2 linked regions of the Homo sapiens genome follow. The protein of the gene in region 1 purifies or fractionates together with the protein of each later gene. This does not show direct contact. Each region holds a gene or a part of one and is shown on either strand. Other genes may lie near its edges.

Evidence for each region. The genes of interacting proteins can lie anywhere in the genome.
Region 2: the proteins of RPS6KB2 (region 1) and DHX9 purify together in Homo sapiens (affinity purification with mass spectrometry, with the first as the bait; 2 studies listed by BioGRID). This does not show direct contact.

Annotation. Positions count from the first base shown.
Region 1 is NC_000011.10:67,426,848-67,430,597, forward strand, and holds the start of RPS6KB2 (ribosomal protein S6 kinase beta-2), read left to right. Parts: upstream 1-1,646; 5' UTR 1,647-1,698; coding exon 1,699-1,776; intron 1,777-2,134; coding exon 2,135-2,175; intron 2,176-2,272; coding exon 2,273-2,393; intron 2,394-2,679; coding exon 2,680-2,748; intron 2,749-3,750. UniProt on the Homo sapiens protein: Phosphorylates specifically ribosomal protein S6. Seems to act downstream of mTOR signaling in response to growth factors and nutrients to promote cell proliferation, cell growth and cell cycle progression in an alternative pathway regulated by MEAK7.
Region 2 is NC_000001.11:182,877,219-182,880,868, reverse strand, and holds part of DHX9 (ATP-dependent RNA helicase A), read right to left. Parts: intron 2,849-3,650; coding exon 2,696-2,848; intron 1,620-2,695; coding exon 1,459-1,619; intron 373-1,458; coding exon 261-372; intron 1-260. UniProt on the Homo sapiens protein: Multifunctional ATP-dependent nucleic acid helicase that unwinds DNA and RNA in a 3' to 5' direction and that plays important roles in many processes, such as DNA replication, transcriptional activation, post-transcriptional RNA regulation, mRNA translation and RNA-mediated gene silencing.

The DNA of each region.
Region 1 (3,750 bases):
AAGACCTCCCCTCTAAAAAAAAAAAAAAAGAAAGAAAGAAAGAAAAGAAAAAAGATTATGTGATTATGTCATTCCAGTTACTTGGGATTTGAGGTGGGAGAATCACTGGAACCCAAGAAGTCAAGGCTGCAATGAGCCACGATCTTGCCACTGTACTCCAGCCTGGGTGACAGAGTAAGATCCTGTCTGAAAAACTAAACAAAACAAAGAAAAAAAAACCATAAAGTTTTTTTTTTTTTTTTTTTTTTTTTTTTTTTTTTTTTTAAGATGGAGTCTCGCTCTTGTTGCCCAGGCTGGAGTACAATGGCATGATCTTGGCTCACCGCAACCTCCGCTTCCCAGGTTCAAGTGATTCGCCTGCCTCAGCCTTCCCGAGTAGCTGGGATTACAAGCATGCACCACCATGCCCAGCTAATTTTGTGTTTTTAGTAGAGACGGGGTTTCTCCATGTTGGTCAGGCTGGTCCTGAACTCCCGACCTCAGGTGATCCGCCTGGCTCGGCCTCCCAAAGTGCTGGGATTACAGGTGTGAGCCACCGTGACCAGCCAGGTTTTCGGGTTTTATCTGTTTGAGACTTGGTCTCACTCTGCCGCCCAGCCTGGAGCGCAGTGGTGCAATCTTGGCTCACTGCAACCTCTATCGCCCGAGTTCAAGCGATTCTCCTGCCTCAACCTCCCGAGTATCTGGGAGTACAGGTGCGCGCCACCACACCCGTCTAATTTTTTGTATTTATAGTAGAGGCAGAGTTTCATCATGTTGGCCAGGCTGGTCTCCAACTTCTGACCTCAAGTGATCCACCCACCTCGGCCTCCGAAAGTGTTGAGATTACAGGTGTGAGCCACCGCCTCCGGCCTGTTTGTTTTTTTGAGACAGGATCTCACTGTGTCACCCAGCCTGGAGTGCAGTGGCACCATCATAGCTCACTGTAACCTTGAACTCCTGGCCTCAAGTGATCCTCCCAACTTGGCTTCCCAAAGTGCTACGATTACAGGCGTGAGGCATCGTGTCCGGCCTCAACAACGTTTTTTGAAGTGTCTATTCTGTACCAGGTGCCTAAATGTGCTTAAATTAAGAAGGGAGTAAACGCCAACAAAATCCCATATTTACAGGTCTATCACTGACCCCCAAAACCCTATTTAAGGCGGGAACCTGGCAACATAGCCTGGCAGTGAGCTGGCCACTCAGTAAATGCTCCGATTTGCAGGGTCCTCGAGCCAGAGGCACTTTGAGGAGACCCTGATGCAGCCGCCTCCCTTTCTGGAGTGAACCGAAAGCAACGCGACCTGCCTTTCATCACGCAGCCGGCCTGGCAGTACCCGTCTCCAACAGGGCTGGGGATTGCATTTACATTCACACCTGCATACACTTCCGACCCTGCTCCATCCAAACTCAAAACACCGTAGAACCAAAACGGGCTCCCAGAAAGCCTTGCTGGGAAGACCGAGGGTCCTGCGGAAAGGATTCTGCAGGCTGAAGGCTAGGCGCCTCGCCACTCTAGGACTACAATTCCCGAGAGGCCTTGCGACGGAAGCCATCTTTGTTCCCCACCAGGCTAAGCGATTTTCCGGAGGGGGAGTAAGATCCCTTGCGTCACCGGCGCGCGCAGCTGCCGTCGCGGAGAGATGATGTTTAGGTCCGGGACTGTCAGTCAGTGCGCGGCCAGGTACGGGCCGACGGGCCCGCGGGGCCGGCGCCGCCATGGCGGCCGTGTTTGATTTGGATTTGGAGACGGAGGAAGGCAGCGAGGGCGAGGGCGAGCCAGAGCTCAGCCCCGCGGTGAGTGCCCTGCCCTGGCGCGACTGGATCCTGGAGCCGATCCTGTCACCCAGCCGAGGCCGGAGCGGCGGCTCCGCACGCCCAGAGCGGGCTCCGACTCTTTGCAGACCCAGATCCTTCTCAGATCCCGGTCTCTATTAAGTTCTGATCCCACCCTCACCCCGACCTCTCTTCCAGAACCCCAGCCTTTTCTCCCGATTCTCCCTTTCCTGCCTTCGGTTTCTTCCCAATTCTTACCCATCCCCTACTAGCTGCCATCCCTGACACCCTTCTCTCCTGGGCCACGCAGTCCAACCTGAACGGGAGCGGGGAGGTATCCTGGCACCTTCCTTGGCTCTTACCCCTCGGTTTCTCACAGGACGCATGTCCCCTTGCCGAGTTGAGGGCAGCTGGCCTAGAGTGAGTGAGGGTCGTGTTGGGGGAGGGGGGAATGGAGTGGGGAAGGGGAACTGGGGAGCACTGGAGCCTTGTCCTCATTAACTCCTTGTGTCCGTAGGCCTGTGGGACACTATGAAGAGGTGGAGCTGACTGAGACCAGCGTGAACGTTGGCCCAGAGCGCATCGGGCCCCACTGCTTTGAGCTGCTGCGTGTGCTGGGCAAGGGGGGCTATGGCAAGGTAGGGGCGGGCGCACCCTCCTCCTGGCCTCACAGCCTCCATCTGGAGGCAGCAAAGGGTTCTCAAAACAAATTAGACTTGTGAATCAGCAGGGCCTCTAATGGGATTCAGAGCCAGAAACATAAAGGAGGGAAGGCCAAATCCTCTCCAATCGGACTTGAAATCTTCACTGCCCCACCCTTGGCAGGGCCTAGGCCTCCTGATCCCAAAGCCAGAGCTTCAGGGTGGGGCTTCTTGAAGATAGGATGTGGAGAGGGAAGTTGATCCTGTCTCCCCTGCCCTACAGGTGTTCCAGGTGCGAAAGGTGCAAGGCACCAACTTGGGCAAAATATATGCCATGAAAGTCCTAAGGAAGGTGAGTCACTCGTTCAGCCAACGAATACTGTGTGGCTGCCATTCCCAACATGCTGTACCAGGCTTTGGGAAGACAGCAGGGAACACAGTGGAGGAGGATCCCTGACTTTGGCGTTTGCTGGTTTATTGTCTGTTGTGATGTGTATTGTCTTGCAGTAATTCTCAATGGGGGCAATTTTGACTCCCAGCAGACATTTGACAACAGTGTCTGGACACTATTTTATTTTATTTTTTTTTAAGACGGAGTCTTGCTCTGTCACCCAGGCTGGAGTGCAGTGACGCGATTTTGGCTCACTGCCACCTCTGTCTCCCAGGTTCAAGCGATTCTCGTGCCTTAGACTCCGGAGTAGCTGGGATTACAGGCGCTTGCCACCACACCCAGCTAATTTTTGTACTTTTTTGTAGAGGTGGGGTTTCGCCTGGCTGGTCTCTAACTCCTAATCTCAGGTGATCTGCCCGCCTTGGCCTCCAACGTGCTGGGAGCTGGGATTACAGGCATGAGCCACCGTCCCTAGCTTTTTTTTTTTTTTGGATGGAGTCTTGCTTTGTTCCCCAGACTGGAGTGCAGTAGTGCACTCTCTGCTCACTGCAACCTCTGCCTCCCGGGTTCAGGTAATTCTCTTACCTCAGCCTCCTGAGTAGTTGGGACTACAGGCTTGTGCCACCACACCTGGCTAATCTTTGTATTTCTATTTGTTTACCTACTTATTTTGAGACGGAGTCTCACTCTGTCACTCAGGCTGGAGTGCAGTGGTGCGATCTCGGCTCACTGGCAACCTCCACCTCCCAGGGTGAAGTGATTCTCCTGCCTCAGCCTCCTGAGTAGCTGGGATTACAGGCGTGAACCACCACTCCTGGCTAATTTTTTTTTTTTGTATTTTTAGTAGAGATGGGTTTTTGTCATGTTGGTCAGGCTGGTCTTGAACTCCTGACCTCAGGCTATCCGCTCACCTTGGCCTCCCAAAGTGCTGGGATTACAGCCATGAACCACCGTGCCTGGCCT
Region 2 (3,650 bases), on another chromosome or scaffold:
GAGCCACATTGCCTGGCCTGCTTGCTTTTAACTTTTGAGAAATCAGTGCCCTTTTCCCCATATTGGGCCCAGATATCCACCTACTGGAACTGTTCATTTTTTTAGTGTTACACTGCTCTCAATATCTAGGTATGTTACTTCCCTGAAGAACATTTAGGATTTTTTTTTTGTCTATCTGAGCCAATACTGCTTTTACAGGGAGGAGAAGATTCTGAAATTATTCTGCCACTTAACGAAGAGAAATAAAACAAAGCACTTACTAGAAAATACACCCCATTATCATCATTTTGCCAAAACGAGGCTCAATGGGGAGTTTAGCCAGGATTCGTCCCAAAGGAGTCAACTCATCATTGGCATCTAATGCATCAAGCTCTGTGGGGAGATAGTTCTTTGTGAGCAGAAACAAATGAACACTAATTTTAGGCAGACAAAACATTACTCTAAATTAAGGTTAAGACAGTTTAGAGTTCCTCTTTTGTCAAGCCAATCGCTAATACCATGTCTACGGCCAACAATTCTCTGTACTCAAAAATAGAACAAAATCAAAATCTGGAGCACCCAACATAAAGGTACTACAACTAAATCCTGTAGGTTATAAAAACAAATACAATTCATATGAAGTCTATAAATACAGTATTAACTATAATAGCAGCGTAAGTTTCTACATGCCATAAGAAGTCTGATACCCAGCTGTTAATGTTTTAAAAAAAATAAAATCTAGAGAAAATTCTGAAGTTACATAGTAGATAAATGCTAGATTCAAAATTCAAATTCAGATCTAGCTCCAATGCCCTTAATTTTCACTGTACCTCTAACAAGTTTAGCAAGAAAAAATAAATGTTCCAGGCTGGACACAGTGGCTCCTGCCTGTAATCCCAGCACTTTGGGAGGCTGAGGTGAGTGGATCACTTGAGGTCGGGAGTTTCAGAAGAGCCTGGCCAACATGGTGAAACCCTGTCTTAGTAAAATATAAAAATTAGCCGGGTGTGGTGGTGTATGCCTGTAGTCTCAGCTACTCGGGAGGCTGAGGCAGAAGAATGGCTTGAACCTGGGAGGTGGGGGTTGCAGTGAGCTGAGATCACGCCACTGCACTCCAGCCTGGGCAATGGAGCGAGATTCCGTCTCAAAAAAACAAAAAAAGTTGTAAGAGATTCATATGAAATACTGTGGGTATCATGAGTAAGTTATGTTCTGATCTTTAGTACATAGTTAAGAGATGCCTTTTTAAGTTTTCTTTTCTTTTTTAAAGACTCACATTGTCCCTTTCTTCCTTCTCATTGCTCATTAGAACAGTGACTATACTAACTATCTAAGGTAAGACTGGAGGCCTTACTATTATTATCACAGCCCTGTTGACTACATCTTCATCATCTTGATTCATTTGTAAGTGTTATCTGCCAGAACAAGACAGATGGTATGATTAATATCTGCGTCAAGTAGGTTTGTATTTGTAAGTACCTCTAAGAGTGTGTTCTGCTTCAATCACAGCATCCAAAGGGGGAGGTTCAATTGCTTTGGCCAGAAATTGGCCAATTCCTCCTAGACGCAGAAGTTTTATGCTAAGAGCAATTTCATGCAATGGTGTTCGGAACATCTCTGGTGTCATGTGGGTTTCAAGTCTAAGAGAAAATAAGCATAAAATAACCATCCTCCTTGTGTATACACAGATGTTAATAAACTTTTTGCAGCAAGGTAATCAGGGATACAGAGCTGCCTTTTCCTCATCCTTTTATTTTACAATTACCATCGGACCTTTTATCGTTCACTATACACACTGTTGACAAAATTTAATCTGGTTGCATAGTGGTTTCTGACTTATCCTCACAGCTTGATAGCCTTTTAGGCTGAGAAGAAAAATGAAAAAATTATCCAAAATCGCGAATGTTATTAGCTCCACCCATGGTCTCTTCAGGCCTTGCCTGTTGACAAACATGGGTTAAAAACGACAACAAGACTTTTTGTAGGATGATAACTCATACTAACATTTCTCTACAACCTCCCACCTTCCTAGTTCATGTAATTTTAGTGCCACTAGAAAGGCTCTTATAGATGTATCTTTAAAATCCAAAACTTTTTGACTTCTGACATGACACTTAAAGGAAATGCTCATTAGAGCGTTTTGGATTTCATATTTTCAGATTAGGGATGCCCGACTGGTAAATACAATGCAAATATTACCAAGAAAAAAAATCCAAAACCACTTCTGGTCCCAAGCATTTCAGTTTTAAAAGAGATATCTGACCTGTATAAATTAACAACAGCAAACACTTATTGGGAGATCATGATGTGCCATACACTGTTCAAAGTATTTTACATTATTAAATCATTTAATACTTATACCAACCCTATGGGTTAGGCATTATTTATATTCTTTTTACAACTGAGGAAACAAGAGAGGTTAAGTAACTTAATATTTTATAGAATGAGGGAAATGCAGGCCTAAGGAGTAACCACTTAGTGTTATACAATGTATTAGGCACAAATAATATTAAAATCTAGGTCTCTATATTTCTAAATCTGGCTTATTCTCTAAATGATTTGTGATGAAGATTCTTACGAAACATTTACACCTGATTCCAACATGGCTGGCAAGACTTAGATCAGCTTATATTGGCAGGTTTACATAACTGCACACATCTGTCCCTACAGAGAACAGAACAAAAATCCCTTACTAAAGGTCAAGAATGGGTCTTACCTCTCAAAACGAGCTCGGCTGCACAGGTGAAAGCAGAATCCAGGCCGTACTCGGCCAGCTCGCCCTTTCCGTTGCTCAAGGTTTGTTTTTGATGCCCATACGGTAGCATAGTTGGTCATATTGTTGTGAGCAGTGAAGAGTTTCACTTTCTGCCTACATAGGAAAAAGTGGTTAATTCTAAGACTCATGTGTATTATCAATAACTATTATATATCCACTAAGTAGTGAATGCTTTCCACTATGTAGTTAAAGCCATACCTACTTGTGATGTCTATTCATGAATGGCACAAGTAAGAATCAGCAATCTGACTGCAAACTCCTAGTTGTCAACCTACTAAAAGGCAATGTAACATCCACTTGCCACTTATCAGCTGAACTGCCTTGGCCAAACTTTGCATGCCATTATCTACCTTATAGTTTTTTTGGTAAACATTAAATAAATTAACAAATGCAAAGCATTTAAATGGAATATGGCACATACACAAAAGAAAGTAATTATTTAAGTCATCTCTATTCCAAAGTTTAGTGTAACTTTTAGGATATCTGTATCTAGTGATGCCTGTGTGGTCCATTTGAACCCCCAAGTAACCTCAGATTCCTTCAATGTTACATACAGAGACAGCTGCCACTAAATGACTGGGATTGGCACAGAATGCTATTCATCATTTCCTAAAATGGATGTTGGCAGCAAATTGTTTTCATTGTCAGGACAGACTAAGGAATTATAAAGAGAAGTCATGGGGTACAAGTTGGCCAGATATAACCAAGTTTCAACTTTTTTGTCCTTTCAATTTATCAATTACCATGTAATTCCTGTATCTACACAGAATGTCTCCTGGTATATTTTTCCAGGCTCATCTCATACCAAAATGAAGACCCTTAATCCTTAAAGGAGTGTCCTTCAAGGTAGGATATTTGTCATGTGCTAAACACTGGTCATCTTTATTCATCAAAC